Regions from separate parts of the Homo sapiens genome. Here all the other regions are linked to region 1. Evidence: fine-mapped expression QTL. A gene starts in region 1. Each other region holds a variant in brackets. All regions are shown on one strand. Distances are from middle to middle. Region 1 holds the start of TEX101 (testis expressed 101). Region 2 has its middle 22 kb from the start of PSG9. Region 3 overlaps CD177 (CD177 molecule). Region 4 has its middle 17 kb from the start of CD177. Region 5 has its middle 7.4 kb from the start of LINC03078.

Region 1 (6,482 bases):
CGATCTGACTTCCAAACTCTGCTGAGGTGTGAAGATACAGAGATGAAAAGGACATAGTTCCTGTCACCTGGCATCTCTGCCTAGGAGAAAGACATGTAAGTAATCAATTCAGTAGCTGCTGTGTTCAAGGTATAATGACAAAGGAATGGAGGAATACCCAACTACCTAAAAGAATTTGGCAAATATTTTCAAAGAGCTGATACCTGAATTGACATGGAGGATGAACAGGGGTTAGCTATGTGAAAATGGGGTGGGGAGGGTAGTAAAGGAAACAGCAAGGACAAAGGTCAGGTGGTGTGAGCCAGCTTGGTGGATTCAGGGAATTGTGAGAAGTTGCACGACTCATATTCAGCTTGTAGGCCCAGCTGTTTCTTTGATCTGTTTTTTTTGTTTTTGTTTTTGTTTTTTATGGCCAGAATCCATTTTGATTGGCCAGTGCCATCTACATTGTTAAGCATTTTGAGTATTAGCCCCAGTTAGCACACAGTAAATGAGAGAGGGAAGAGAGGGAAATGAAGCTGAAAAGACAGGAAGGGCCAAGTTACTACAGGCCTTGTAAATTGGGGAACTGGGCCGTTCTCGTGCAGCAGTGGGAAACCAATACTTGTTAGACTGATAATACCACCCTGTTCGGAAACCTACACTGATGTCTTATTGCTTTTTTTTTTTTTTTTTTTGATGGAGTCTTGCTCTCTGTCCCAGGCTGAAGTGCAGTGGTGTGATATTGGCTCACTGCAACCTCTGCCTCCTGGGTTCAAGCAATTCTCCTGCCTCAGCTTCCCGAGTATCTGGGATTACAGGTGTGCGCCACCAGGCTAAGCTAATTTTTGTATTTTTAGTAGAGACAGGTTTTCACCATGTTGGCCAAGCTGGTCCCAAACCCCTGACCTCAGGCGATCCACCTCACCCAGCCTGTCTTATTGCTTAATAAACACAAAACCCAGTTTACACTCCAGGCTTCACTGGTATCTCGCTGCTCTGAGCAGTGTTTAGATCCCAATGAACAATTCAGAAACATAAAATTACTTGAACTGTGAGGTACTTTGGGGTATGGACCACTTAGGCTAAGCCAAGTCAGAATGCAAAGGGAGGCCATACACAAGCTCTTTATGGAGTTTCTCTTAGTACCTATCTCCCCCACTTCCAGGGTACCTGTGGTCTCACTGAACTCCCAAAACTGAGACAGGCTGTCTTTGTCATTACAGAAGGAATCCTCACAGTAGTTACTGTAGGAGGTCACGATCAGGCCGGGAGGTGAAGAGTGCTGGACAATTGTTATGGCCTCCTCCCCTTCCGGGATGCAGCCCTTCGTGGCCAAAATGGCTGTCTCAGTCCCTGTTATGAGACAGGAAGGAGGGGAAATGGATGGTGGCCGTCACAATTGGCCTGGACGAAGGGAACAAGCATTGGCATGGAGATAATCAACCTCCCTCCTACCCAGCCCAAATGCCCCATCTCATTTCACCTGCTTTAATTATTAGTATGGTTTCCTGGCAAAGTGCCCCTTTGTCACAAGTCTCCACTTCCTCTGTGGTCCAGTTAAACATATTGGCTGGATCTGCTTCCACAGTCATGGACAGACCCTTTTGACAATACAGCTCTAGGCCCGCTGAGGAGAAAACAAGAAAAGGATAAGCACTTCTCCATGGGCCAAGGCGGCTCCCTTTTCATCATCAGTCCACCTTCTGTGACACACGGCTCTCCCCTATGTCCCCCATACGCACAGGTCAGGAGGGAGGCTCCTAGGACCAGGAGGATCAGCAAATGCTGGATACGAGGGGTTCCCATGGCTTCTTCTGGAGAGGTCTGGGAGGAGCTGGTCTGGATCTGTGAATTTGATGGAGAGAAGGCAATTAACTTTTCAGCCAGAGTGCATGAGATCAAATCTAGGTCCTGGCAAGTACTGACTTCAGGGTGGGGTGTTTTAATCTGCATTTTTTTTTTTTTTGAGACGGAGTCTTGCACTGTCGCCCAGGCTGGAGTGCAGTGGCGCAATCTCGGCTCACTGCCTCTGCCTATCAGGTTCAAGCAATTCTCCTGCCTCAGCCTCCCGAGTAGCCGGGATTACAGGTGCCCGCCACCACACCCAGTGAATTTTTTGTATTTTTAGTAGAGATGACGTTTCACCATGTTGGTCAGGCTGGTCTCGAACTCCTGATCTCAGGTGATCTGCCCGCCTCGTCCCCCCATAGTGCTGGGATTCCAGGAGTGAGCCCTGATGCCCGGCCTCACAGTGGGGTTTATGGTGTATATGACCACGACTTCTAAAGTCGTTCTGTCCCTAACCGGCTTGTGAGCTGGAGCGAGTTCACAGGTTTATCACGCCCCAGTTTTTCATGGTTTTAATTCTCAGGCCCGGCCACCCAGTGCCCTCCAACTTCAGGATCAGGAGTGTGGCCCTGAAGGCCGCTTCTCCCTCAGTCTCAGGGGTCCCTTACATTCTCTCAGGGACCCAGAATCTCGGCCCCCAGCCCCAGCCCCAGCCTCATCAGAACCCGGGATTCTGAGAGCCCAGCCCCGTCCTATGTAGGGATCGAGGAGTCTGGGTTCCAACCACCTTTTCCTGCGGGACACACCATTCTGGTCCCCTCCCTCTCAGGCCCGGGAGCCCAGGCCCCCAACCCTCGTTCCCCTCAGAGCCAGGATCTGGGTCCCCAGCCTTCTCTTTCCTCAGAATCCAGGAATCTGAGTCCCTAGCCTTCTTTTTCTCTTTAAAGAAGCAAAATTGCTGCCGGCTTCCAGGCAGACGCCTCACAAGAATCTCACGACGCCAAAGTTGAGGCCCGGAACGCCTTCTCCCCGGGCTTGGCATTCTCTTACGACGCAAGGCCGGGCCAGCCTGGCCACACAGCACTCGAAACCCCATTGGTGGATGCAAAAGCATCGGATAAGTTCATTGGATGAGCCTGGAGGAACGCGGCACCTCATTGGCCACAGAGAAGTCAATTCCTGGCAATCTCGGAGGGTGCGCATGCTCGGAAGGTGAGTGGCGGGCAAACCGGCCGGAAGATCCTGCCTGTTTTTGCAGCCAGAGGCACGCAATGGAGGGTGGGCAGTGCGTTGCCAGATGGCCTCGCCTGGCCCATTTCTCTTTTTGCACTCTGTTGTCTCTGCTTCTCCAGCCACACTAGGAGGTCAGACCCTTGGCCCTCACTCACGGAACTTATCTCCCTACCCAAATGGCCTCTCATGTTCCCAGCCTGGCCCCTGCCTCGGCACCCACCTTAGTGGCCCTAGCCTCTGGGAGTCAGCTTGGCCTCTTGAGTCTTCACTTGCAGTGGCCCCTGTGCAGCCCAGGCGTCTTCATCTGATTGCGCTATCGCACCAGCCTCCTCATGGTCTCCTGGAGGGTTGAATCTAGGAATGCCCCCCTCAGCATCACTTTGGGCACCCCGAATGCATGCATGAGCAGTAGCTATGATGGCACAGGCTGCTGTCAGATCGAACCCACGCGTCCGTGTCAGGACCATGAAGAAGACATGTCACTCGGATTTGTTGCTCATGGCTGGCAGTTCACTTTCACATCTATGTAACCTTCCCTTCCCTCCCCTCCCCTCCCTTCCCCTCCCCTTCCCTTCCCTTTTTGACAGACTTTTGCTCTTTTTGCCCAGGCTGGAGTGCAATGGCACAATCTTGGCTCCCTGCAACCTCCTCCTCCTGGGTTCAAGTGATTCTCCTACCACAGCCTCCCAGGTAGCTGGGATTACAGGCATAAGCTACCATGCCTGGCTAATTTTTTGTATTTTTTTTTTGGAGACAGAGCCTCTCTCTATCCCCCAGGCTGGAGTGCAGTGACGTGATCTCAGCTCACTGCAACCTCCCTCTCCCAGGTTCAAGCGATTCTCATGCCTCAGTCTCCCCTGAGCAGCTAGGATTACAGGCACCTGCCACCACACCTGGCTAATTTTTGTATTTTTAGTAGAGACGGGGTTTCGCCGTGTTGACCAGGCTGGTCTTGAACTCCTAACCTCAGGTGATCTGCCCACCTCGGCCTCCCAGAGTACTGGGATTACAGACGTGAGCCACCACCCCTGGCCTATGTAAGCTTTCCAGGTGTGACATGAAGTTGTAGCAGGATGAGCTGCAGACAAAACTCCTCAGATACTGGATTAAAGAAGGAAGAGGTTTATTTGGCCGGGAGCCTCAGCAGACTTGCGTCTTAAGAGCCGAGCTCCCTGAAAAATAAATTCTTGGCCTTTTTTTTTTTTTTTGGAGTCTCCCTCTGTTGCCCAGGCTGGAGTGCAGTGGTGCAATCTCGGCTCACTGCAAGCTCTGCCTCCCGACTTCATGCCATTCTCCTGCCTCCGCCTCCCGAGTAGCTGGGACTACAGTCACCCACCACCACACCCGGCTAATTTTTTTGTATTTTTAGTAGAGATGGGGTTTCACTGTGTTAGCCAGGATGGTCTCGATCTCCTGACCTCGTGATCCGCCCGCCCCCCAAAGTGCTGGGATTACAGGCATGAGCCACCACGCCTGGCCAATTCTTGGCCTTTTTAAAGGCTTACAACTTCGAGGGGTCCACATGAAAGGGTCGTGATAAATCGAGCAAGCGTGGGAAACGTGACTGGGGGCTACATGCATCAGGTAACAGAACAGAAAGTTTTGCAATGCTTTTTCATATAATGTCTGGAACTTACAGATAACACAAGTAGTTTAGGTCAGGGGTTGCTGTTATTATTATTACTTTTTTTAACTCCTAGGGCTGGGTGGTGGTGCCAAGGTTGACTGGCTATTTATCTTACTTCTGTTTCTTTCCAACTTTTTGCTTTCTCTCTTTCCTCCTGTCTTGTGAACTAGGCAAGGTCGGGGGAGGAGGGCAGCAGGAGTAGTAGTGGTCTCCTTCCTTAAAGTAAGGCAACGCTTTGTATACTTTCAGAATTGGTACTGATTCTGTAAGTTATAGTATAAATGAGTATTTATTTTTAATAGAGAAAATGCCACAATAAGAAAGGGATTGGTAAAGCTTCAATCCCTTTGTTATCTTTGAACTGTTATCTTTGAATGATCACATGTCAAAGGATCCAGGAAGAATGTGTGCCAGTTTTCAGCCCCCGTCTGTCCCCCGAGGGCTCGTGCTTGGGAAAGCAGTCACCTTGTTGAGTCACTCTCCAGGTGACTTGGTCGCAGAATCCCTCCATCTCACACCTAGAAGAGACCTTGGAAGCCTAAGCACCCTCCACCTCTATTCTTCACCCCATTTCTGCTTCAACAGCTCCAGGGACCTCCTCTTGCTCCGTGACATAGTTTGGATATTTGTCCCCCGCCCAAATCTCATGTTGAAATGTAATTCCCAGTGTTGGAGATGCGACCTGGTGGAAGGTGTTTGGGTTATGGGGGCAGATCCTTCATGACTTGGTGCTGTCCTTGCAATGATGAGTGAGTCCTTGCCAGATCTGGTTGTTTAAGTGTGTGGCACCTCCCCTTCTTACTCTCTCTCGCTCCCCTTCTCTGGCCTGCATCCTTTTGCCATAAGTAAAAGCTCTCTGAGGCCTCCCCAGAAGGAGATGCTGGCACCACGCTTCCTGTACAGCTGCAGAACCTTGAGCCAATCAAACCTCTTTTCTTATAAATTACTTCTAGTCTCAGGTATTTCTTTATAGCAGTGCAAGAACACCCCAATACACAGCCCCTTGAGAAAGGTGGCTTTGCCTTTTTGGTGCAAGAGAGATTGACAGATCTTCCTTAGCCTGAGCCAATTTCTGTTCCTCTCCAAGCTTCAGTGTCCTCATCTAGAAAATGAAGAGGTTAGGCTGGGTGCAGTGGCTCAAGCCCATAATCCCAGCACTTTGGGAGGCCAAGGTGGGTGGTTCACCTGAGGTCAGGAGTTTGAGACCAGCCTGACCTTCACCAACACGGTGAAACCCTGTCTCTGCTAAAAATACAAAAATTAGCCAGGCCTGGTGGCACGCGCCTGTAATCCCAGCTACTTGGGAGGCTGAGGCAGGAGAATCACTTGAACCTGGGAGGCGGAGGTTGCAGTGAGCTGAGACTGCACCATTGCACTCCAGCCTGGGCAACAAGAGCAAAACTTGGTCTTGGTCTCAAAAAAAAAGAAAAAAAAGAAAAAAAAGAAAATGAGGAGGTTAGTCTAGAGCAATGGTTGGCAAATAGTTTATGAATCCATGGAACGTTTGTAAAAAAGAAAAAAGCTCAATGGCTAATATACAGTGAAGGCATCTTTTTATATAAGCACTTGTGACACCACCATTGGTCACTGGATTATTGCAGTACGCCCTGCCCTTGCCCATGTGGCTATTTCCCACCTGGCACCAGAGCGATCTCTTAATTGCAAGCCACACCACATTACTCCTGTTTAAAACTTTCTAATGGGCCAGGCACGGTGGCTCAGGCCTGTAATCCCAGCACTTTGGGAGGCCGAGGTGGTGGATCACCTGAGATCAGGAGTTCGAGACCAGCCTGGCCAACATGGTGAAACCCTGTCTCCACTAAAAATGAAAAAATTAGCTGGGCGTGGTGGT
Region 2 (6,482 bases), 120 kb after region 1:
GTAGCTGGGATTACAGGTGCGTGCCACCACGCCTGGCTAATTTTTGTATTTTTAGTAGAGATGGGGTTTCACCATGTTGGTCAGGCTGGTCTCAAACTCCTGACCTTGTGATCCGCCCACCTCGGCCTCCCAAAGTGCTGGGATTACAGGCATGAGCCACCATGCCCAGCCGGTAAACTTTTTTATCAGACCTTTCCTTTCACCATTCCATTTCTGTCACCCTCACCCATCTTCTCCTCTGACTTTTTTCTCTTCAGTGACTTACTTGGTCTAATATGCTGTTTAGCATCAAAAGCCACACTACAAATTCTTTTGTGACTCTCTTGGAATGTTCTTGTGATGTCCAGAACCTTGGAAGCCTAAGCCTTACATCAGTGTGCCCTGAATATGAGATATGGGGTCAAAGGAGATTATTTTGGAGCTTTAAGTTTTAAAGACTGTGCTGCAAGGTTTCAGACTTTCATGGGGCCTGTATCTTATTTCCTTCAGCCTATTTCTTCCCTTTGGAATGGGAGTATTTACCCAATGCCTATACTTCCATTGTGTCTTGAAAGTAACTAACTTGTGTTTGAATTTACAGGCTCATAGGTAAAAGGAACTTGCCTTGTCGCAGATGAAACTTGCTATTTTGGACTTCTGAGTTAATGCTGAGTGAGTTAAGACTCTAGAGACTGTTGGGAAGCCATTCTTATATTATTAAATGTGAGAAAGACATGAGATTTGGGAGGGAAGATGGAGAGAATAATTTTTTTTGGACCTTTACCCCCACCCAAATCTCAAGTCAAATTGTAATCTCCAAAGTTGGAGGTGGAGCCTGGTTGGATGTGATTGGATCATGGAGGTGGTTTCTCATATGTTAACACCATTCTCCTTGGTGCTGTTATAGCAACAGTGAGTTTTATCTGGTTCTTTACCAGTGTGCAACCCTTGCTCTCTTCCTCCAGCTCCCATTATATAAGATGTCTTCCTCCACCACTGGCTTTCTCCATGATTGTAAGTTTTCTGAGGCCTCCTCAAAATCTGAGCAGATGCCAGAATCATGCTTACTCTACAACCTGCTGAATCATGAGACCATTCAAACTCTTTTCTTTATAAATTATTCAGGTTCATGTATTTGTCTGTAGCAATGTAAAAACAGACTTATACAGCCTTATTTTCAGTAGAAAAAAAACTAGGGAGTAAACCATTCTAACTATGTACCAGATGCAAAGCCCAAGACAAAGAACAGAGCTATGAAGAAAATGCCTGGATAATCCCACCTCTCCCAGCATGGCCAAAAGGCACAGCTGGAGGATGGGATGGGTTTTGTCCCCAGTTCTTACTATGGTCACTCATCTAGAACTCAGAATTTAAAGCTTCAAATATAAAGACATAAGCTCACAGACAAATTAAGAAAATGTATATATACACAAGCAACTCTTTGATGACCTTAAAACATCTAGTAAAGACAATATAAACCTGCCTGCCAACAGACATAGGCAAAAGTGTATAAATTAAATTATGAAGACATTTCTACTTTATTTTACCAACAATTTTAAAGCTATCTATATTCACCAAAGGTTACTAAAATCACATATATAGAAAAGCATTTGGGCTTATTCACTTAATTTGTGAGTACTCATTTATTTTTACATTAATTTGATACTATGTGTAAACAGTATATAAACGTGTGACATATACATATATGTGATGAAACATATATATGTTCACATAAAGATAGAGAGAGACAAAAAGATTCTAGAATTTTGATTTTAGGAGTTTAGGCATGAGATCAGTAAAACCCACCATTTTAAAGGATAGTTGGATTCAAATTGCTGTCTTGTAAATGGTAAAGGTTAACATTTATCTGAGGAAGGCTTTACCTAGTTTTAGAGAAAATACATAGCACATTTACATCTCAAAGCAAAGAGAGAGAGAGAGAACTTAAGCTTTTTCAAGAGAAAATTTGGTGTGTTCAAGGAAGATTAAAAATAGATGCCAAGGTAACACAAAAAAATAGAAATTTACCATGGGGTTTTATTTTTTTATTATACTTTAAGTTTTAGGGTACATGTGCACAACGTGCAAGTTAGTTACATATGTATACATGTGCCATGTTGGTGTGCTGCAACCATTAACTCATCATTTAACATTAGGTATATCTCCTAATTTCATGGTGACCACCAGGTAGAAGCCACATTTGCATAATAAAAGAATAGGATGGGAGGGCCAGTCTTTTTTCAGGCTATGTAAATGGAACACCTGGTCAAAACAATCCCCTGGACCCTATGTAAATCAATCACTGCCTCCTTAAGTCTCTGTACAAAATCAATTGCATTCCACCCCAAATTGGAGACCCTCTCTTGGGTGACTGCTTTCTCAGTATGAGAAAGCTTTTTCTCTCTCTCTTCTTTTTTGTCTGTTAAATTTTTCAATCCTAAACACACTCCTCATGTGTTTCCATGTCCTGAATTCTTTCTCAGTGTGTGACAAAGAACCATGGATAGATTCCCAAACAGAGTCATTTTATTTGGGAGTTCTCATCTGGGATTGTGATCAGAAGAGAAGATAGAAACATCAGAATGGTGAGTATGGAGCAAACCTCAAATCTGTCCTTTAATTTCAAGGTTCTCTTCCAACTAGTTTCCTTTCATGGAGAACCTCACCATCACATGAGGCTGGGGGATGTCCTGGAACAGCTGAGAATTTCTGGCCAGGACACACCCTGATGTTATTCAAAGGCTTCTGGACTGAACACAGCCTCCGGCAGCCCATCCAGATGTTGGTAATGGGTCTCCTAATTTGCTATCCTGTTGCAAATTTGTTCTTCCTTTCTATCCATGGTCTCTATGTCTCCTATTCTTTCTGTGTATGCAATATGTGGAAATTTTTACAGTTCAGGGAAACAGTTCTGTTAGGAAAGATCGGTAAATGCTATAATAACTAACCCAATAGGTGTCTCAGTCTCTCTCTCTCTCTCTCTCTCCTTCCTTTGGTAAGCACGTGGTATTTCTAAGCCAACAATGTCATCTAGTAGAAATAGAAATCCTCCTCATAAGGCACATTGTTGGTCCTTTGCCATAACACTGCACTTTTCCAATTCTCTCTTTTTGCACTGATAGAAAAGCCCTTTCTGTGAATGGGAAAGCTCTGCTTTCAACAATTAGGAGTAAAATGTCTTCCATAGCCAAATTTTAGTTCTGATACTGCTGCATCAGCAGGAAAAACTGCCATTAGGTCCCTACATTCATTTAAAGTACCTATTCTATCTCCAATTAGAACAGTATTTAATTAGTAAGGATACTTTAAGAACAGAGTTAACCAGGACCACTTTTCTGAGGGTAAATGCTTTAGCACGTATCTGGCAACTGGCACATTCCCTCTGTTAAAGAAAGCTTGCTCAAAGGCAACTGTTACAGTTTCTCGAGAGATCCATTTTTCAGGAAGCCAGGCAGATCACAGGCAGATAAGCTAATGTTGCATGGGTAAAGTGTGGCTAATCCCATCACTTCATTTATCTAGTTCCATGGCTTACAGGGCCACACCTACAACCATGGGCAGCACATTTAACATAGTGCCGGGACTCAGGAACCAAGGAGAGAAAACAGTTGGGGGGACGCTCCCACTGTCTTCCACTCCACTCTGGGTCTCAATGAAATAAGGAGGACTATAAGGACACTTTTATTCTCACTTCTTTTTCTCAATGGCTAACAGAGCATCTTCAGCTTGCACCCCTCTGGAGCGCACTCTGAGGCACTAGAACTCTTTTAACCTCAGGACTTTCAAGAGAAAAGCAACTCATTCTATTTTGCAAAATGACAGGGCATTTTTACTAAACCTTTACAAGCATTGTAACAGCAACCCAGATTTTTTAACAGCCATATCAGGCAGGCTTATAAAGAATAAT[A/C]TCCTAGAATTAGAAAAGCAACTTCCAAGGGAACCATCTGAGAATCTCCATAATTTGGGGTCCCTCCAAGTTCCCTTCTCATTACAGGACCTTAGGCAAATAAAGTAAGACTTAGGCCAATTTTCAGACAATCCTGACAGGTATATAGAAGCTTTCCAGAATTTAAGTCAGGTGTTTCACCTCACATGGAAGGATGTTATACTGCTCCTAATCCAAACCCTAACTGCAGCTGAAAAACAGGCAGCTCTGCAAGCAGCAGAGAATTTTGGAGATGAGCAACATATCTCCTATAATACACCAAAAGGGAAGGAAGGAGATACAGAAAGTGAAGAAATAGCAGAAACACCATTCCAAATAGTAAGTGAAGCAGTACCTCTTGACAACCCTGATTGAAACCCCAATAGCCCTGTAGATGAATGAAAAAGAAAAACTAAGGCCAGACCTCTTAATTCCTCTAAACTGTCTAGGATAGACTCAAAGCCAGATGAGAATCCTGCAGCCTTTATGGATAGGTTGAGAGGGGCACTATTAGCACACACCTTTTTATCTCCTGATTCAGTCAAGTGACAGCCCATTCCAAAAGATAAGTTTATTATACATAAAGCTCCCAATATTAGAAGGAACCTATAAAAGGCAAGCTATAGTAGCAGATAGCACCTTGGAAAACCTTCTGAGGGTAGCCACTTCAGTCTTTTATAATAGGGACTAGGAGAAGGCCCAGAAGAAAGAGAGAAAGCTCAAGAGAAGGACAAAGCCTCTAGTAGCTGCTTTGCAGAGTTGCAAAGTCCAGGATCCCAGAGGTGTATCCACTAGTTGCTCTCGGTGTGGCAAGCCAGGGCATTTGAGGAAGAAGTGTCCAAAGAGCAAGAGGAAGCCACCTTGACCCTGTCCAGCCTGTGGTGGAGACCACTGGAGATGCAACTGCTCCCAGAGATGGAGGTCACTGGGTTCAGAACCAGTCTCACAGTGGTCCAGCAGGACTGATGGGTCCTGGGGCTCAAACCCCTGGCTCCAGCAGCTCAAACTGCCATTACAGCACAGGAGACACAGGTCATTCTGGAAATTATAGGGAGGAAAGTAGACCTCCTTCTAAACACTAGATCTAGTCTCTCTCTTTTCTCCTTTCTTATCCAGGCCTCCCCTCTTCCCATAGCACAACCATAAGGGGTGTCTCAGGAAAAATTCTAATCCAATATTTTTCTCAGCCTCTTATTTGCAGTTAGGAGGACCTATTTTTTACATCTGCTTCCAAACCACTGTCACAATAGCTCTACTAATCAGAAAAGCCTCCAAATTAACCCTAGGAAAAAACGGTTTACACCCCCACTTAATGTGGCAAAATTACTTTCCTCTAGAGGGAGCTCTTAGCTAACAATCAGCTGGTAAAGCAAGAAATACGTAAGGTAGGATAAGCAGTAGTCACTCTAAATAATATCTCTCTTCAGGTGCAGGTGCTCAATCAGCTAAACAAACAGTTAATACAAGAGCACTTAAATTAAGCAAGGGAAAGGTAGCTAACATTTACACTGATTCCAAGTATGCTTTTTGAGTTCTTCATGCTCATGCTGCCATTTAAAATAAAAGGCATTTTCTTACCACTAATGGACTTCCTATAAAATATCACCAAAAAATTAACAGGTTATTATCGTCAGTTTTCTTTCATGAGAAATAGCAGTGATACATTATAGAGAACATCAAAAAGGGAACAGATGAAGTAGCCAAAAGAAATAGGTTCACTGATCAGGCAGCTAAGTCACTGGCAAGGCATCAACACACCTCAAAGCCTTCTAATCTAGGAAGACTCCATAAGATAAATTAAACCTCAGTACCTTCCTGCAGAAATAAAATAGGCCACTTCTCAGGGTATCCTTTCCAGTCCTCAGAATGGCTGTAGTCAGAGGATGGCAAACTCCGTTTGCCAGCCTTCAGCCAACGAGAAATCCTTAAAATCCTTCATCAAGCTTTTCACGTAGAAGAGGATAAAACTTATCAATGTGCTCACAGATGATTTTCATATAGAAAATCTCTAAATTGGTTAAGCATGTAACCTCTCTAGCTCACTTCCAACAGGACACATGTAGCAAAAGCCCAACCCCAGGAAATAAGACCACCCTTATTTAACCCAGATTTGGTATTAGTAGAAACTCTCTTCTCTCTCCCTCTATCTCTCTCCTTAAGTTAAGTGGTTAAAATGGCACATTATATATATACACACATATATATATATACACACACACACATACATATATATACATATACACATATACATACACACATATATATGTGTGTATATTTATAGACATATGTATCTACATGTCAAATTTATATGAATATATATTCACATCTAACAAATACAAGTATGTATGTGTTTCTATATACACACTCAACCACAATTTTTTGAAAAGTGTTTGGTGAAAAAAAAACCCGCTGTGTAAAACACACCCACCCTAATCACATAGCCCTCATACACTTCCATGCAGACCTCTCATGACATTATCTGCAGACAGGTTCAAGAAGTACCGTCCAGCAAACAGCACATGCACAACATAAATGTATTTGCAGAGACTCAGAGCTAACCTGGAGGCACGAACCTCGG
Region 3 (6,482 bases), 52 kb after region 1:
GACCAGGCTTATGGATGGGTCCTCACGGTGAGCTGGCGCCCAGCAGAAGTGGACGGCGGCTGCCTTAGTGCCCACTTCAGGTGGTCCTGAGGAGTGATGAAGGGAAATCCTTCAGATGGGCAGAACCTCAGGGGTTCTGCAAGGAGGGATGGACTTGGGTCCATTGCATGAACCCAGAGCGGGCCACATGGTCAAGGACTTGAAGAGAATAAAAGAGTAAACTTAAGACAGGGAGGACACATGGATGTTCCTCTGGGGATGGGCACAAAGTGTGAGCTATGCCGTCCCCACCCTTAAGCCCAGAACCTGTGCTGTGGGGATGAGGTTCTTGGTGTTTGGTGGATGGTGTCAGGCAGACTCTGTCCCTCAGAGCTTGTTCAGGGGGTCCAGGTGCAGATGGCCACATGGATAGGGAGGACGGCGACATACCTTACCACAAGTGGACTGAGTCTCCCAGCACTGGCCTGGCTGCACACTGTATCCAGCCCTGCCCAGTGTAGGCAGAGCCCGGGGCTAAGCCCCTGGAAGGCGTCATTTTACAGGAGGACTACCCGGCCACTGCAGATAGGCTGGCCACACAGGACACGTCCCATCCTGGAGGGGACTGGGCTTTGTCCTCACACGGATACGCACACACTGGGGGTTCCAGTTGGCCTTCCCTGGACCCTGCTCAGTGCTTCTGTGAACAGCGCCTTTCCTGTGGCTCTGGAACCCATGCAGGGTTGCTTCCACTGGGGACACGTGTTAACGCAAAGAATGGGGGGTAATTAACTCACACCCATGGAACCCACTGACCGTCTCAGGTGCCCCTCTATACAGACACAGCTGCTTCTCAGATTGGCGCAATGGCTCATGTGTGGCTTATCAGGGCACCGGGAGGGAGACCGTACCCCACCACCCACAGGAGGGGCCACACATCTTATAAACCAGCAACCAGGCTATCGGGTCACGCGCCCCAGGGCCAGATGCAAAGATCCAGGAAAGACAGGAAGAATAAGCGCGGCTCCCTCCCGTGACTGCACCTGCCAGCCCACTGAGAGAATGCTTGCTCTTTGTCCCCGTGGCCCTGGGCTGCTGTGGATGAGGAATCTCTTCCTAGTTCTGATCTGCAGGAAGCCATGACAGCCCTCCAGCCATCCTGTGCCCCTTGTGCTGCCAAAACAGCAGGCAAAGGAGACGTCACTCTGCAGTCGGGGGAATGGCATCTGATTACAGAGGGAGGTCGGGTGGCTGGGACAAGGAGGCTATTTTCGAAGGCAGGCAACTCATGGCGGTAACATTTCCTTGGCCAGGGCCCTGTTCCATGGAAAACTACAGAAACCCACTAAAGACAAGGCCATCCAAGACTCACTCTCCATAAGAATCAAGATTTGGGTTACACTGCAGGTAACAAATAACATCCAAAGGAGGTTTTGGAAGTGGGAAGACAATGTGGAATGTACTGGAAGAAAGCAGCTCTAAGCACCAGCAGCCCCGCCCCCAGGACCTCAGCAGCTGTATTGGAAGCCATCTCCTCCCCATCTTTCTCTCATTGTGGGTGAAGAACTGGTGCCCAGCACAATGGGAGGAGGACATCACTGTCACCATCACACACTGTTACTGTGACAGAGGGAAGGACTGGAATTGTGTGTCATCTGTACGGAGGACTCTGATTTATTTTTCCCCCTTGAGACAGGGTCTTGCTCTGTCGCCCAGGCTGGAGTGCAGTGGTGCAGTCTTGGCTCACTGCAGCCTTGACCTCCTGGACTCAGCCTTCTGAGTAGCTGGGACCAGTAGAGGGAGGGGGCGCACACCACCACACCCGGCTTATTTTTTGTATTTTTTTGTAGAGAAGCGGTTTCACTATGTTGCCCAGGCTGGTCTCAAACTCCTGGGCTCAAGTGATCCTCCCACCTCGGCTTCCCAAAGTGCTGGCATTATAGGCGTGAGCCACCGAGCCCGTCCTGGACTTTGATTTTCATTTGGACAAAGGGAAAGGGTGGATGCCGAGGGGCAAGGGAGTGAACGGTACTAGACGTGTTCTGTTTCCTTCTCCAGATTCGCTCTCTTCTCCTCTTCCCTCTCCTCTCCTCTGTTCTGTAGTGTGAATGGCAGATCTATGGGGGCTGGACCAGTGGAGTCTCCTGCTTCTGTGGCCTCTAGGGGGTTCAGTCAATGGGGAACCTCAACTGGAGACCAGAGTGAGGACATCAGTTTGGAATTTTAGTTCCCCACTTCCCTCCCCAGTATCATTGTGGGCTGGACGCGTTTTTCAGCCTGAGATGGGAGCTCTTGTTAGGCAACCCTCTCTGAATATCTCTCTCTTTCTGTCTCCGGCTCTCTCTCCAGCTCTCTCTGTCTCTTTCTGTCTATGTCTCTCTCTCTCTCTCTCTCTCTGTCTGCAGATTCCAGCAGTGGCTCTTCTCCTCACCCTTTTTGGGCTATGGTGGTAAGAGAGACCCAATGATAACAGCTCTGGGAAAATGCTAACCCATTTTTTTCTGGAGTTCTCTCAAGCCCTCATGTCAATTATCCCACGATACGCAGATGCTACATAGCAACGTTTGGGTCAGCGACGAATTGCGTATAGAACGGTGGTCTGCTGAGATGACAATAGTGTATTTATGCTGTACCTTTTCTATGTTTAGATGTGTGTAGATGCACAAATACTTGCCGTGGTGTTAAGATTGCCTGCAGTATTCACACCATAACATGCACTGCAGGCTTGTAGCCTAGGAGCAGTCGACTCTAGCGTCCATCCTGGGTGTGTATTGGGCTGTACCATCTGGGTTGGTGTAAGTGCACGCTACAATGTTCCTATGGTCATAAAATCACCTAACGACACATTTCTAACGACACGTCCCTGTCGTTAAGCAATGCATGACTGTACTAACCTCTCCTGCAGTTGCTCAGATGGGGCGAGCCTCCTGTTTGTGCTAGGGCCCTGGCTGCTAGGCTGGAAGCCTCATACGTCTCAGTGCATCTTCCCCTCCCAGGTCATGGTGATGCCCAAATACGTTTGGCTGGAGCACCCTGAAGTCTCTGCTACCATCCAAGCTGGTTTGGAGACGTGAACCAGACCAATGAAGGGCAGGCTTTAGATGGTCATTTTCTCATTAGGCTCCTCTCCTCCCCCACGCTAGATCCCTGGGTGTCCTGCTGCCCCCTCACATGGAGAAATCCCAGCACTGGGAGAAAGGACAGGGTCTGTATTATCAGATACATGCAGCCACTCCTCCAGCGTCCCCTCTCCCATAGGGCAAGT[C/T]CGGATGCTCCAGGCTCTCCCCAGTGTTGCTGTTAGGTGAGTAGATATGAATGATTGTGTGTGGGGAAGATGATTCATGGACAGAATGGGAAAGAATCTGGTGTCCAAGGCCATTAGGTTATGAGGTCAGAGGGAGGTTGAGTGTGGGTGGTCAGCAGCGGTGAAGAATCGTGGGGGTAATAGAGTTAGCAGGAAGGGCAAACCACTCCCCACCACAGCGCTGGGGCCAGTGCCAGCCCCACCCCCCAAGTGAGAGACTCCAGGCCCTCAGCCCCACCTCCCTCATGCTGAGAGGCAGGAGGCTGCACATCACGCTTCTCACGCGCAGAGAAGATCCCGATTTGTCTGGTGTGGTTCAACAAGAAGCTGGAAGGTTGGGCCACGCAGCCCTGAATGCTCATTTTGGTGGACAGCCCACCTAGAGGGAGAAGACCAAGTCAGAAAGGACACAGAGTACAGCCCAGCCAAGTTGTAAACCCAGGAGTCCAGGCCCCAGACCCTCCTCCCTCAGACCGAGGAGCCCAGACCCCCAGCTCCAGCTCCTCAGACCCAGGGGTCCAGGCCCCCAGCCCCTCCTCCCTCAGACCCAGGAGTCCAGGCCCCCAGTCCCTCCTACCTCAGACCCAGGAGTCCAGAGCCTCAGCTCCTCAGACCCAGGAGCCCCGGCCCCCAGCCCCTCCTCCCTCAGACCAGGAGTCCAGGCACCCAGCCCCTCCTCCCTGGGACCAGGAGCCCAGGCCCCCAGCGCCTCCTCCCTCAGACCAGGAGTCCAGGCCCCCAGCCCCTCCTCCCTCGGACCAGGAGTCCAGGCCCCCAGCGCCTCCTCCCTCGGACCAGGAGTCCAGGCCCCCAGCCCCTCCTCCCTCAGACCCAGGAGTCCAGGCCACCAGTGCCTTCATCCTTGGGGCCCTGCTTGCAGCACTCACCTCCTGAGAGATGAATGTACCCATCATAACAATGAGTGGCGCCCCTGGGGCAGGTCATTCGGGGGGAGCCACTTGAACAGGTTCCAAGGGGCTGCACACAGGTAGGACACTGCCGGTCTCCTGGGACAGGGGCAGCTGGGGAGCAGAGGGAAGGTGGGGGTACATGACTTTGTGCTCAGAGCAGCTGGCCACCTTGGGCCAGAGTCTCTGTGTGTCTGGGCCTCATTTCTCCACGGCCCTGGATCCCATACCTTGAGGAGGGAGGGAGTTCAGCAGAACGCTGCTGCTGCTGGCACTATTGCACAGGTCCGAGGAGCAGAAGTGGGTATAGGAGGCCACAAGCACCCCAGGAGGGGCTGAGTGGATGGTGGTCTTCTGGGAATTTTGAGCCCCAACAGTGCTGCAGCCTTTTGTCCCCACCAGGGTTGATGTGAGTCCTGAGGGTGAGAGGGAAAGCTGGGCTGGGGACTGGGCAGCTCCCAGGGCAGCAGGGGCTCCAGAGCTGGACTCCCTGCCCTTCACAATACCCCCCAGGCAGAGGGTGAATGCCCTGATCACAACTGCTGGGTCATGTTTAGTGTGGGGCAAAGACGGAGGCTGGGGCCTGGGTCCTGCCCGAAGCTCTGCCTCCTCCCAGTTCTCGCTCAAAGGTCACCTTCTCCATGAGTCTCCCCTGAGCACTGAGCTTAAAATTGCAGCCTTCCCCTCACTTTTCCTATCTCCTTTTCCTTGCCAGATTTCTCTGCAGAGCTGGGATCTCCATTCCCCATACTTTGCTGCTTTTTGTTTGTTTGTTTCCTGTTTCTCAAGGCATATAAAGCTGCAGGAATACAGATGGGATTGGATCTGCGGCACCTAAAACAAATGCTGGATAAACATTTCCAGAATGTATGAAGCCACTGAGAGTCCTCGGTGTTGGCACGGTTCTCCACCCTGGGCAGGGATTACCGCATACGTGGTCACCCCTCCCCAGAAAGGCAGACACTGTCATTCCCACTGCTTCACCCCCAGTTTTCATAAGGGGAACCCAAGATGCAGAGAGAAGAAGAGTCGGATTGAAAATTGCAGATGTGAAGGGAGCTGAGCAGGAAATTCAGGGGAAAGAATCCAGTGGGGTGGAGGGAGCTGCCAGGGACTTGGGACAGGTGTTCGTCTTCTACCTCAGTCCACGTACCTACATCTAGGAGCAGCAGCGTCTCCTGACACACCTGCCCCACCTCGCACATCTCGGTATTCGATGTGGTCCAATCAGTGGGTTCTTGAGCCAAGTTTCCGTGTGTCATAATGGTGGTCCCCCGATGACAGGTCAGAAAATCTGGGGAGAGGAATCCCAGGGTGTGTGTAAGCCAGGAACCCACCATGTCTGTCCCTCCACGTCCTGGGCTAGGGAAGGTGATCACACTCTTGAGTCACACTCCAGGTGACCTGGCCACAGATTCCCTTAACCAAGGATTCAGAAGGGACTTGGGAGTCGAAATCCCACCCCCATTGTTCCCTGTTTCTGCTTGAACACCCGCAGGGACGTCCTCTCACAGCCCTGGGGGAACGGCCGTTCCTTGCTTTAGCTGTGAGAGCAATGGAAGCTCTTCCTTATCCTCATCCCATCTCTGCTTCCCCATCTGAGCTTTAAGGTCCTCATTTCAATAATAAGGAAGGCAGCCTGAGACCTTTCTCATACCTTTCAGTTGCAAAGCCCTATGTTCCAAACAAGATGCGAAGGGCCAGGGTGGGCTGAGCACTGCCGCTGAGCACTGCCTCTGCACCTGGCTGACCTCATTGCTTCCCACAGATCCACCCATCTAAGGTTCCAGGGAACACAGCTTATCTGGGATGCCTCATTTCCCCACAGCACCCCAGCAGTAGGTGGTGTGATCACAATCAACACCCTCATTTGCAACAAGGGAAACAGAGGCAGGATTGCTCAGTAGCTGCCCATGCCACACAGCTTGTGAGTGGCAGAGGTAGGCTGGGAACCCAGGGACTCTGGACCCTCAGGGTCGGGGTTGGGAGCAGGAGGGAGACAGGTACTGAAGACCATCCTCGGCTACCTTGGCCCCGAGGCCCTCAAGGCTCTAGTGTGAAACCACAGCCCCTGGCCTCCCCTCACGGCCATCACAGAGCAGGGGGGATCGGTCCCATGATGCAGGGACTCTTAGACTGAGCCCCCAGCTTCCACCAACACATGCGACCTGCAGAACCGATGCCACCCTGGAGGGCTGCTCATTTGCATACTTCACAGATGACAAAATCAAAATCATGGCTCCTGCTCCCTTCTCCCACCCTTCTCTCCCCACTCCCATCTCCCCTACTTA
Region 4 (6,482 bases), 44 kb after region 1:
CCCTGCCCAGGGTGGAGAACCGTGCCAACACCGAGGACTCTCAGTGGCTTCATACATTCTGGAAATGTTTATCCAGCATTTGTTTTAGGTGCCGCAGATCCAATCCCATCTGTATTCCTGCAGCTTTATATGCCTTGAGAAACAGGAAACAAACAAACAAAAAGCAGCAAAGTATGGGGAATGGAGATCCCAGCTCTGGAGAGAAATCTGGCAAGGAAAAGGAGATAGGAAAAGTGAGGGGAAGGCTGCAATTTTAAGCTCAGTGCTCAGGGGAGACTCATGGAGAAGGTGACGTTTGAGCGAGAACTGGGAGGAGGCAGAGCTTCGGGCAGGACCCAGGCCCCAGCCTCCGTCTTTGCCCCACACTAAACATGACCCAGCAGTTGTGATCAGGGCATTCACCCTCTGCCTGGGGGGTATTGTGAAGGGCAGGGAGTCCAGCTCTGGAGCCCCTGCTGCCCTGGGAGCTGCCCAGTCCCCAGCCCAGCTTTCCCTCTCACCCTCAGGACTCACATCAACCCTGGTGGCGACCTAAAGCTGCAGCGCTGTTGGGGCTCAAAATTCCCAGAAGACCACCATCCACTCAGCCCCTCCTGGGGTGCTTGTGGCCTCCTATACCCACTTCTGCTCCTCGGACCTGTGCAATAGTGCCAGCAGCAGCAGCGTTCTGCTGAACTCCCTCCCTCCTCAAGGTATGGGATCCAGGGCCGTGGAGAAATGAGGCCCAGACACACAGAGACTCTGGCCCAAGGTGGGCAGCTGCTCTGAGCACAAAGTCATGTACCCCCACCTTCCCTCTGCTCCCCAGCTGCCCCTGTCCCAGGAGACCGGCAGTGTCCTACCTGTGTGCAGCCCCTTGGAACCTGTTCAAGTGGCTCCCCCCGAATGACCTGCCCCAGGGGCGCCACTCATTGTTATGATGGGTACATTCATCTCTCAGGAGGTGAGTGCTGCAAGCAGGGCCCCAAGGATGAAGGCGCTGGTGTCCTGGGCTCCTGGGACTGAGGGAGAAGGGGCTGGGGGCCTGGACTCCTGGGTCTGAGGTAGGAGGGGCTGGGGGTCTGAGCTCCTGCGTTTGAGGGAGGAGGGTCTGGGGCCTGGACTCCTGGGTTTATGAATTTGGCTGGGCTGTACTCTGTGTCCTTTCTGACTTGGTCTTCTCCCTCTAGGTGGGCTGACCACCAGAATGAGCATTCAGGGCTGTGTGGCCCAACCTTCCAGCTCCTTGTTGAACCACACCAGACAAATTGGGATCTTCTCTGTGTGTGAGAAGGGTGATGAGCCGCCTCCTGCCTCTCAGCATGAGGGAGGTGGGGCTGGGGGCCTGGAGTGTCTCACTTGGGGGGTGGGGCTGGCACTGGCCCCAGCGCTGTGGTGGGGAGCGGTTTGCCCTTCCTGCTAACTCCATTTCCCCCACGATTCTTCACCGCTGCTCACCACCACACTCAACCGTCCCTTGTGCTTGTAACCTAATGGCCTTGGACACCAGATTATTTCCCCATCCTGTCCATGAATCATCTTCCCCACACATAATCATTCATATCTACTCACCTAATAGCAACACTGGGGAGAGCCTGGAGCAGCCGGACTTGCCCTGTGGGAGAGGGGACACTGGAGGAGTGGCTGCATGTGTCTGATAATAAAGACCCTGTGCTTTCTCCCAGTGCTGGGATTTCTCCATGTAAGGGGACAGCAGGACGCCCAGGGATCTAGCATGGTGGAGGAGAGGAACCTAATGAGAAAATGGCCATCCAAAGCCTGCCCTTCATTGGTCTGGTTCATGTCTCCAAACCAGCTTGGATGGTAGCAGAGACTTCAGGGTGCTCCAGCCAAACGTATTTGGGCATCACCATGACCTGGGAGGGGAAGATGCACTGAGATGTATGAGGCTTCCAGCCTAGCAGCCAGGGCCCTAGCACAAACAGGGGGCTGGCCCCATCTGAGCGACTGCAGGAGAGGTTAGTATAGTCATGCATTGCTTTACGACAGGGACGTGTCGTTAGAAATGTGTCGTTAGGTGATTTTATCACGAAAGGAACATTGTAGAGTGCACTTACACCAACCCAGATGGTACAGCCCAATACACACCCAGGATGGATGGTAGAGTTGACTGCTCCTAGGCTACAAGCCTGCAGTGCATGTTATGGTGTGAATACTGCAGGCATCGTAACACCACGGCAAGTATTTGTGCATCTATACACATCTAAACATAGAAAAGGTACAGCATAAATACACTATTGTCATCTCAGGAGACCACCGTTCTATACGCAATTCGTCACTGACCCAAACGTTGCTATGTAGCATCTGCCTATTGTGGGATAATTGACATAAGGGCTAAAGAGAACTCCAGAAAAAAATGGGTTAGCATTTTCCCAGAGCTGTTACCATTGGGTATCTCTTACCACCATAGCCCAAAAAGGGTGAGGAGAAGAGCCACTGCTGGAATCTGCAGACAGAGAGAGAGAGAGAGAGAGAGACATAGACAGAAAGAGACAGAGAGAGCTGGAGAGAGAGCCGGAGACAGAAAGAGAGAGATATTCAGAGAGGGTTGCCTAACAAGAGCTCCCATCTCAGGCTGAAAAACGCGTCCAGCCCGCAATGATACTGGGGAGGGAAGTGGGGAACTAAAATTCCAAACTGATGTCCTCACTCTGGTCTCCAGTTGAGGTTCCCCATTGACTGAACCCCCTAGAGGCCACAGAAGCAGGAGACTCCACTGGTCCAGCCCCCATAGATCTGCCATTCACAGTAGAGAACAGAGGAGAGGAAAGGGAAGAGGAGAAGAGAGTGAATCTGGAGAAGGAAACAGAACACGTCTAGCACCGTTCACTCCCTTGCCCCTCGGCATCCACCCTTTCCCTTTGTCCAGATGAAAATCAGAGTCCAGGACAGGCTCGGTGGCTCACGCCTGTAATGCCAGCACTTTGGGAAGCTGAGGTGGGAGGATCACTCGAGCCCAGGAGTTTGAGACCAGCCTGGGCAACATAGTGAAACTGCTTCTCTACAAAAAATACAAAAAATTAGCCGGGTGTGGTGGTGCGTGCCTGTCTGTAGTCCCAGTACTTTGGGAGGCCGAGGCGGGCAGATCATGAGGTCAGGAGATTGAGACCATCCTGGCTAATACCGTGAAATCCAGTCTCCACTAAGACAACAAAAAATTAGCCGGGTGTGGTGGTGCACGCCTGTGGTCCCAGCTACTGAGAAGGCTGAGTCCAGAAGGTCAAGGCTGCAGTGAGCCAAGACTGCACCACTGCACTCCAGCCTGGGGGACAGAGCGAGACCCTGTCTCAAGGGGGAAAAAATAATCAGAGTCCTCCGTACAGACGACACACAATTCCAGTCCTTCCCTCTGTCACAGTAACAGTGTGTGATGGTGACAGTGATGTCCTCCTCCCATTGTGCTGTGCACCAGTTCTTCGCCCACAATGAGAG[G/A]AAGATGGGGAAGAGATGGCTTCCAATACAGCTGCTGAGGTCCTGGGGGCGGGGCTGCTGGTGCTCAGAGCTGCTTTCTTCCAGTACATTCCACATTGTCCTCCCACCTCCAAAACCTCCTTTGGATGTTATTTGTTACCTGCAGTGTAACCCAAATCTTGATTCTTATGGAGAGTGAGTCTTGGATGGCCTTGTCTTTAGTGGGTTTCTATAGTTTTCCATGGAACAGGGCCCTGGCCAAGGAAATGTTACCGCCATGAGTTGCCTGCCTTCGAAAATAGCCTCCTTGTCCCAGCCACCCGACCTCCCTCTGTAATCAGATGCCATTCCCCCGACTGCAGAGTGACGTCTCCTTTGCCTGCTGTTTTGGCAGCACAAGGGGCACAGGATGGCTGGAGGGCTGTCATGGCTTCCTGCAGATCAGAACTAGGAAGAGATTCCTCATCCACAGCAGCCCAGGGCCACGGGGACAAAGAGCAAGCATTCTCTCAGTGGGCTGGCAGGTGCAGTCACGGGAGGGAGCCGCGCTTATTCTTCCTGTCTTTCCTGGATCTTTGCATCTGGCCCTGGGGCGCGTGACCCGATAGCCTGGTTGCTGGTTTATAAGATGTGTGGCCCCTCCTGTGGGTGGTGGGGTACGGTCTCCCTCCCGGTGCCCTGATAAGCCACACATGAGCCATTGCGCCAATCTGAGAAGCAGCTGTGTCTGTATAGAGGGGCACCTGAGACGGTCAGTGGGTTCCATGGGTGTGAGTTAATTACCCCCCATTCTTTGCGTTAACACGTGTCCCCAGTGGAAGCAACCCTGCATGGGTTCCAGAGCCACAGGAAAGGCGCTGTTCACAGAAGCACTGAGCAGGGTCCAGGGAAGGCCAACTGGAACCCCCAGTGTGTGCGTATCCGTGTGAGGACAAAGCCCAGTCCCCTCCAGGATGGGACGTGTCCTGTGTGGCCAGCCTATCTGCAGTGGCCGGGTAGTCCTCCTGTAAAATGACGCCTTCCAGGGGCTTAGCCCCGGGCTCTGCCTACACTGGGCAGGGCTGGGTACAGTGTGCAGCCAGGCCAGTGCTGGGAGACTCAGTCCACTTGTGGTAAGGTACGTCGCCGTCCTCCCTATCCATGTGGCCATCTGCACCTGGACCCCCTGAACAAGCTCTGAGGGACAGAGTCTGCCTGACACCATCCACCAAACACCAAGAACCTCATCCCCACAGCACAGGTTCTGGGCTTAAGGGTGGGGACGGCATAGCTCACACTTTGTGCCCATCCCCAGAGGAACATCCATGTGTCCTCCCTGTCTTAAGTTTACTCTTTTATTCTCTTCAAGTCCTTGACCATGTGGCCCGCTCTGGGTTCATGCAATGGACCCAAGTCCATCCCTCCTTGCAGAACCCCTGAGGTTCTGCCCATCTGAAGGATTTCCCTTCATCACTCCTCAGGACCACCTGAAGTGGGCACTAAGGCAGCCGCCGTCCACTTCTGCTGGGCGCCAGCTCACCGTGAGGACCCATCCATAAGCCTGGTCTGCACTTTCCTCCTCTGTATGAGGTCACAGGGCTTCCCAGGAGCTCACAGATGTGGTAGAGGGAGGGGCAGGAGGACAGGTGCCATGGGAGCCTGAGTCACTTGCAGTCGGGGGAACGGCATCTCATTACAGAGGGAGGTCAGGTGGCTGGGACAAGGAGGCTATTTTCGACCTTTGGGAATTACAGCTGAACGTGAGATTTGTGTTCGGACAGAGGAAAGCCATATCATTTGGCTTGTTTACACCTTTGGCTAGTGTGAATAATGCTGCTATGAACAAAGACATGCAGATACCTGCTGGGGCCCCTGCTCTCAGTTCTTTTCAGAATACACCAGAAGTAGAATTGCTGCATCGTGTGGTAAGTCTATGATTAATTTTTTGAGAAATGACCACAGTGGTTGTGCCATATTATATACCCACAAACACTGCACAAGCATTCCAATTTCTCCTCGCCAACACTTTGTTTTTTTTTTTTTTTTTTTTTTCAGAACTGCCATCAGAACAGATGTAAGGTGGTATCTCACTGTGGTTTTGATTTCCATTTTCCTAATGATAAGTGATGTTGACCAAATTTTATTTGCTTATTGGCCATTTATAAATTCATTTTACATTTCCTCCTTTGTAATGCCAGAGGTGGCACACTGTGCACTGTTCTGCTTCTTGTTTTTCTCACTGTGCAGTGTATCTTGGAAGTCTTTCCAAGTGGGTCGACAGAAGGATACTTCAATAAAAATGGGCAACACCGCTGGACAGCCATCAGAGCCATGAAGTCCCTGGCTTAGGGGAAGGCAGAAGGAGGGTGAGAAACAGAGAGATCGAGAAAGGCAGAGAGAGAATGGGGGCAGGGATGGAGAGAGAAAGAGAAAATGATAAAGACCCAGAGAGAGACAGAGTCAGAGATATATGGGGGTGGAGAGGGGAGATACAGAGAGAGGCAGAGAGGAAAGGGTACAGAGACACTAACACAGAGAGATGGAGGGAGGGGAGAGGCATGGACAGAGGGAGAACTCAGAGAGTCAGAGCCAGAGAAGTAAAAGGTGTGCCGTAGAGAGACACAGGGCAGGACTAGGGTGAGACAAGAGAGGACCCAAGCTTGTGGATCCTTGATTAAAAATCAATGGTGTTATAATAAGAAAGAAAAAGGAAAGAAAGAAAGAAAGAAAGAAGGAAGGAAGGAAGGAAGGAAGAAAGGAAGGAAGGGACCAAGTGAGAGGGAGACAAAGACAGAGAGAGACAGGGAGACACAGAGATGAAAAGACACAAAGTGAGCCAAAGACACACAGTGAGGAGGAGACAGAGCCAGAAACAGAGACCCAGTGCGGTGGAAAGAGAGAGGCAGACAGACAAGAGCAGCATCTTCAGGGCGACCCGATGCCCAGTGCCCCTGAACTGCTCCACGGGGAGGTGGCTGAGCGCACAGCCTGCATCCCATCCATCATTTCCTGGCCTTCGTGACTGGGTGACCGTGCACAATCCAGTCCCCGTCTCTGAGCCTCAGTTTCCACACTGTAAACCAGGCATAGAT
Region 5 (6,482 bases), 90 kb after region 1:
GCATAGTCAAGGTTAATGCTCCTTTTTCTTTATCCCAAATCAGATAGCGTTTAGGCTCTTTTTCATCAAGTATAAAAATCCAGCCCAGTTCATGGCTCGTTTGACAGCAACCCTGAGACGCTTTATAGCCCTAGACCCTAAAAGGTCAAAAGGCCATCTTATTCTCAATATACATTTTATTACCCAATCTGCTCCCGACATTAAATAAAACTCCAGAAATTGGAATCTGGCCCTCAAACCCCACAACAGGACTTAATTAACCTCACCTTCAAGGTGTGCAATAACAGAAAAAAGTTGCAATTCCTTGCCTCCACTGTGAGACAAACCCCAGCCACATCTCCAGCACACAAGAACTTCCAAACGCCTGAACCATAGCAACCAGGCGTTCCTCCAGAACCTCCTCCCCCAGGCGCTTGCTACACGTGCCGGAAATCTGGCCACTGGGCCAAGGAATGCCCGCAGCCTGGGATTCCTCCTAAGCCGCGTCCCATCTGTGTGGGACCCCACTGAAAATCGGACTGTTCAACTCACCTGGCAGCCACTCCCAGAGCCCAAGGAACTCTGGGCCCAAGGCTCTCTGACTGACTCCTTCTTGGCTTACCGGCTGAAGACTGACGCTGCCTGATCACCTCAGAAGCCCCGTAGACCATCACGGACGCCGAGCTTTAGGTAACTCTCACGGTGGAGGGTAAGTCCATCCCCTTCTTAATCAATACGGAGGCTACCCACTCCACATTACCTTCTTTTCAAGGGCCTGTTTCCCTTGCCTCCATAACTGTTGTGGGTATTGACAGCCAGGCTTCTAAACCTCTTAAAACTCCCCAACTCTGGCGCCAACTTAGACACTACTCTTTTAAGCACTCCTTTTTAGTTATCCCCACCTGCCCAGTTCCCTTATTAGGCTGAGGCACTTTAAGTAAATTATCTGCTTCCCTGACTATTCCTGGACTACAGCTATATCTCATTGCCGCCCTTCTTCCCAATCCAAAGCCTCCTTTGCGTCCTCCTCTTGTATCCCCCCACCTTAACCCACAAGTATAAGACACCTCTACTCCCTCCTTGGCGACTGATCATGCACCCCTTACCATCTCATTAAAACCTAATCACCCTTACCCCACTCAACGCCAATATCCCATCCCACAGCACGCTTTAAAAGGATTAAAGCCTGTTATCACTCGCCTGCTACAGCATGGCCTTTTAAAGCCTATAAACTCTCCTTACAATTCCCCCATTTTACCTGTCCTAAAACCAGACAAGACTTACAAGTTAGTTCAGGATCTGTGCCTTATCAACCAAATTGTTTTGCCTATCCCCCTTGTGGTGCCCAACCCGAACACTCTTTTGTCCTCAATACCTTCCTCCACAACTCACTATTCCGTGCTTGATCGTAAAGATGCTTTTTTCACTGTTCCCCTGCACCCCTCGTCCCCGCCTCTCTTTGCTTTCACTTAGACTGACCCTGACACCCATCAGGCTCAGCAAATTACCTGGGCTGTCCTGCCGCAAGGCTTCACAGACAGCCCCCATTACCTCAGTCAAGCCCAAATTTCATCCTCATCTGTTACCTATCTCGGTATAATTCTCACAAAAACACACGTGCTTTCCCTGCTGATCATGTCTGATTAATCTCCCAAACCTCAATCCCTTACAAAACAACAACTCCTTTCCTTCCTAGGCATGGTTAGTGTGGTCAGAATTCTTACACAAGAGCCAGGACCGCACCCTGTAGCCTTTCTGTCCAAACAACTTGACCTTACTGTTTTAGCCTAGCCCTCATGTCTGTGTGCAGCGGCTGCCGCTGCTTTAATACTTTTAGAGGCCCTGAAAATCACAAACTATGCTCAACTCACTCTCTACATTTCTCAACTTCCAAAATCTATTTTCTTCCTCATACCTGACGCATACACTTTCTGCTCCCCGGCTCCTTCAGCTGTACTCACTCTTTGTTAAGTCCCACAATTACCACTGTTCCTGGCCCGGACTTCAATCTGGCCTCCCACATTATTCCTGATACCACACCTGACCCCCATGACTGTATCTCTCTGATCCACCTGCTATTCACCCCATTTCCCTGTATTTCCTTCTTTCCTATTCCTCACCCTGATCACGCTTGATTTATTGATGGCAGTTCCACCAGGCCTAATCGCCACATACCAGCAAATGCAGGCTATGCTATAGTACAAGCCACTAGCCTGCCTCTCAGAACCTCTCATTTCCTTTCCATCGTGGAAATCTATCCTCAAGAAAATAACTTCTCAGTGTTCCATCTGCTATTCTACTACTCCTCAGGGATTATTCAGGCCCCCTCCCTTCCCTACACATCAAGCTCGAGAATTTGCCCCCACCCAGGACTGGCAAATTAGCTTTACTCAACATGCCCGAGTCAGGAAACTAAAATACCTCTTAGTCTAAATAGACACTTTCACTGAATAAGTAAAGGCCTTTCCTACAGGGTCTGAGAAGGCCACCACAGTCATTTCTTCCCTTCTGTCAGACATAATTCCTCAGTTTAGCCTTCCCACCTCTATACAGTCTGATAGCAGACCAGCCTTTATTAGTCAAATCAGCCAATTAGTTTTTCAGGCTCTTAGTATTCAGTGAAACCTTTATATCCCTTACGGTCCTCCGTCTTCAAGAAAAGTAGAACGGACTAAAGGTCTTTTAAAAACACACCTCACCAAGCTCAGCCACCAACTTAAAAAGGACTGGACAATACTTTTACCACTTTCACTTCTCAGAATTCAGGCCTGTCCTCAGAATGCTACAAGGTACAGCCCATTTAAGCTCCTGTATAGATGCTCCTTTTTATTAGGCCCCAGTCTCATTCCAGACACTGGACCAACTTAGACTGTGCCCCCAAGAAAACTTGTCATCCCTACTATTTTCTGTCTAGTCATATTCCTATTCTCCATTCTCAACTACTCA[C/T]ACATGCCCTGCTCTTGTTCACACTGCCAGTTTACACTGTTTCTCCAAGCCATCACAGCTGATATCTCCTCGTGCTATCCCCAAACTGCCACTCTTAACTCTTGAAGTAAATAAATAATCTTTGCTGGCAGGACTATGCTGAATCTCCTTAGGCACTCTCTAATCAGATGTCCTAGGTCCTCCCAATTCTTAGACCTTTTATACCTGTTTTTCTCCTTCTTATTCCATTTAGTTTTTCAATTCACACAAAACTGTATCCAGGCCATCACCAATCATACTATATGACAAATGTTTCTTCTAACAACCCCACAATATCACCCCTTACCACAAGATCTCCTTTCAGCTTAATCTCTCCCACTCTAGGTTCCCACCCGCCCCTAATCCCGCTTGAAGCAGCCCTGAGAAACATCGCCCATTCTCTCTCCATACCACCCCCCAAAAATTTTCGCCACCCCAACACTTCAACACTATTTTGTTTTATTTTTCTTATTAATATAAGAAGGCAGGAATGTCAGTCCTCTGAGCCCAAGCCAAGCCATCGCATCCCCTGTGACTTGCACGTATACGCCCAGATGGCCTGAAGTTACTGAAGAATCACAAAAGAAGTGAAAAGGCCCTGCCCCGCCTTAACTGATGACATTCCACCATTGTGATTTGTTCCTGCCCCACCTTAACTGAGTGATTAACCCTGTGAATTTCCTTCTCCTGGCTCAGAAGCTCCCCCACTGAGCACCTTGTGACCCCCGCCCCTGCCCACCAGAGAACAACCCCCTTTGACTGTAATTTTCCATTACCTTCCCAAATCCTATAAAATGGCCCCATCCCTATCTCCCTTTGCTGACTCTCTTTTCGGACTCAGCCCACCTGCACCCAGGTGAAATAAACAACCATGTTGCTCACACAAAGCCTGTTTGGTGGTCTCTTCACACGGACACGTATGAAAAGAAAGACATGAGATTTGAGAGAAACCAGGGAAAGAATGATATGTTTTGGATTTATATTCCCACTCAAATCTCATGTCAAGTTGTAATCTCCAAAGTTGTAGGTGGAGCCTGGTTGAAGGTGATTGGATTATGGGGATGGTTTCTCATGGTTTAACACCATTCCTCTTGGTGCTTTCCTAGTGACAGTGAGTTCTCAGGTGATCTGGTTAAGAGTGTGTAACCCTTGCTGTCTTCCTCCTGCTCTCACCTGTGAGATGCCTTGTTCTGCCTTGGCCTTCCACAATGATTGTAAGTTTCCCGAGGCCTCCTCAAAAGCTGAGCAAATGTGAGAGTCATGCCAAACCATGAGCCAATTCAACCTCTTTTCTTTATAAATTACCCAGTCTCAGGTATTTCTCAGTAGCAATGTGAGAACAAACAAATACAGCATTATTTTCAGGAGAGAAAAAACAGGAAGTAAGCAATTCTAACTAGTTACCAGGTGTAAAGCCCAAGATAAACAGCAAAGCTATGAAGATTATACCTGGAGAATCTAATCTCTTCCAGCATGGCCAAAAGGCACAGCTGTGGGATGGGATGAGTTTTGTCCCCAGTTCTTGCTATGGTCGCTCATCTAGAACTCAGAATCTAAAGGCTCAAATCTAAAGATATAAGGTCACAGAAAAATTAAGAAAATGTATATATACAGAAGCAACCATATGATGACCCTAAAACATCTAGTAAATACAATATAAAAATGTCTGCCAACAGACCCAGGCACAAATGTCTAAATTAAATCTGAAGACATTTCTACTTCATTTTACCAATAATTTTTAAACTATCTTTATTTACCAAAGATTACTAAAATCACATGTATTGAAAAGCATTTGGGATTATTTACTTAATTTATGAGTACTTATTTTTACATTAATTTGATACCATGTATGTAAACAACATATAATCATATGTATGGACATAGACATATATGTGATACAGCATATAACATACACATGTGCACATAAAGATAGAGGGAGGCAGAAAGAGTTTAGAGTTTTGATTTCAGCATAGGACCGATCAAATTCAGTATTTAAAAAAGACAGTTGGATTAAATTTGTGCCTTTGTAAATGGAAGAGGTTAACATTTAATTAAGCCAGACTTTATTGAGTTTTAGAGAAAATTGGTAGCAAATTTACATCTCAAAGCACAGAGAGAAAGAGAACTAAAGCTTTTACAAGAAGGAATTTGTGTGTGTTCAAGGAAGATTAAAAATAGATGCCAAGGTAACACAAAAATGACAGAAATTTACCATAGGATTTTATAAGGAGACCAATTTTATTTAGATAGGCAGCTTTTAATTTGGTCTCTGTTTTCCAACTGGACCACTGAGCTCAGGACAGAGCCCATTAAGGAAGAGGACCAACGAAGTCTTGCAACTTTTAGATCCTAATAATTTAAATACATAAAAAGAAGACCCAGTTGCAAGGGACAGCATCCAGACCTTTATAAATCAAGGATTTCACTGAATCCCAGGTCCCTGAGAAGAGGAAAATGCCAATGGAACCATACTATGCAACACTTCCACAGTGTACTTTGCTATAAGGGCATTTTTCTAATTATTTAAACTGTGTATTTCTTATCTAAACTTGCAAAGAAATGAGTAGCATTCTGAAGTAATAATCATTTATTGCGAGCGCTGTTAGTCACCTCCAAAACCAAAGCTCTTACCAGTGACCCAGCAGCCATCACACATATAAGGTCAAGCATTTTTACAGTGCAAAGTAATCTCTGATGCCCCCAAAAGCCAAAGAGGTCAGGGAAAATGGAAAAGAGAGCAGAGTTTTAGACCTGAGAGGAATCCATTTACTTACAACTCTTGGGGTTCCATGAGGAAAAACAGTGGTTTCTCCTAAATAGGGAAGTCTGTGGCATCTTTTCTGTTTTCCTTAAGGGGTTCCAGGCTGTCAGAAATTCTTTAGGTTCCCTCATGTGGCATCAAGAATAGCAAGAGGAAGGATGGAAAGAGAAATAAGCAGAAAAAGAATTTTTAAGAAAAAAACCAGACAGACTAAGCACATGATTTAAAAAGATTTCAGTCAACTGAAAAAAAATCTTTCAAAGATACAAAAGAGATGGCCAGAGGCAGTGGCTCACATCTGTAATGGCAGCACTTTGGGAGACTGAGGCGGGCAGATTACTCAAGGCCAGGAGTTCAAGACCAGCAACATGGCGAAACCCAGTCTCTAGTAAAAATACAAAAATCAGTCAGGTGTGGTGGCACGTGCCTGTAATCTCAGCTGCTCAAGAGGCTGAGGCCCAAGAATCCCTTGAACCCAGGAGGTGGAGGTTGCAGCGAGCTGAGATTGTGCCACTGCACTTAAGCCTGGGTGACAGAGTGACAGCCTGTCTCAAAAAAAAAAAAAGATACAAAAGAGAAAAGCAGAAAAGCCTTCAATATACATTCAAGTCCTTTCTCAATATATATCCAATATGAATTTATATATTCTGTGTATATACATATTCTATATATATATAATATTTTATATATATATTATTTTAATATATACATGGCTTAATATTATAAATATTAATAATTATATGGCTTAAATACCATTAATAAATATATGGCTTAAATA

The links. PIP is the estimated chance that this variant, and not a neighbour inherited with it, causes the effect.
Region 2: its variant is the best candidate, but not a certain one, in a credible set for the expression of TEX101 in whole blood (INTERVAL, PIP 0.68).
Region 3: its variant is the best candidate, but not a certain one, in a credible set for the expression of TEX101 in whole blood (TOPMed, PIP 0.82).
Region 4: its variant is the best candidate, but not a certain one, in a credible set for the expression of TEX101 in whole blood (INTERVAL, PIP 0.58).
Region 5: its variant is the best candidate, but not a certain one, in a credible set for the expression of TEX101 in whole blood (INTERVAL, PIP 0.60).

What each region holds. Positions count from the first base shown.
Region 1 is chr19:43,411,226-43,417,707 of GRCh38, reverse strand. TEX101 (testis expressed 101) reads right to left here and starts at 2,818. Exons shown (of 6, transcript NM_001130011.3): 1 at 2,670-2,818; 2 at 1,725-1,827; 3 at 1,466-1,609; 4 at 1,153-1,335. The coding sequence starts at 1,788. RefSeq lists a silencer at 4,431-4,617.
Region 2 is chr19:43,287,871-43,294,352 of GRCh38, reverse strand. No RefSeq gene overlaps it. Among named protein-coding and RNA genes, the nearest start is that of PSG9, 22 kb to the right of the region's middle. The variant A/C (reference allele first, on the strand shown) is at 3,887.
Region 3 is chr19:43,359,268-43,365,749 of GRCh38, reverse strand. CD177 (CD177 molecule) reads right to left here. Exons shown (of 9, transcript NM_020406.4): 6 at 5,345-5,485; 7 at 4,422-4,607; 8 at 4,171-4,305; 9 at 2,578-3,662. The coding sequence ends at 3,430. Among named protein-coding and RNA genes, the nearest start is that of CD177, 8.8 kb to the right of the region's middle. RefSeq lists an enhancer at 1,044-1,545. The variant C/T (reference allele first, on the strand shown) is at 3,245.
Region 4 is chr19:43,367,662-43,374,143 of GRCh38, reverse strand. It overlaps the pseudogene CD177P1. Among named protein-coding and RNA genes, the nearest start is that of CD177, 17 kb to the right of the region's middle. The variant G/A (reference allele first, on the strand shown) is at 3,433.
Region 5 is chr19:43,320,897-43,327,378 of GRCh38, reverse strand. No RefSeq gene overlaps it. Among named protein-coding and RNA genes, the nearest start is that of LINC03078, 7.4 kb to the left of the region's middle. The variant C/T (reference allele first, on the strand shown) is at 2,926.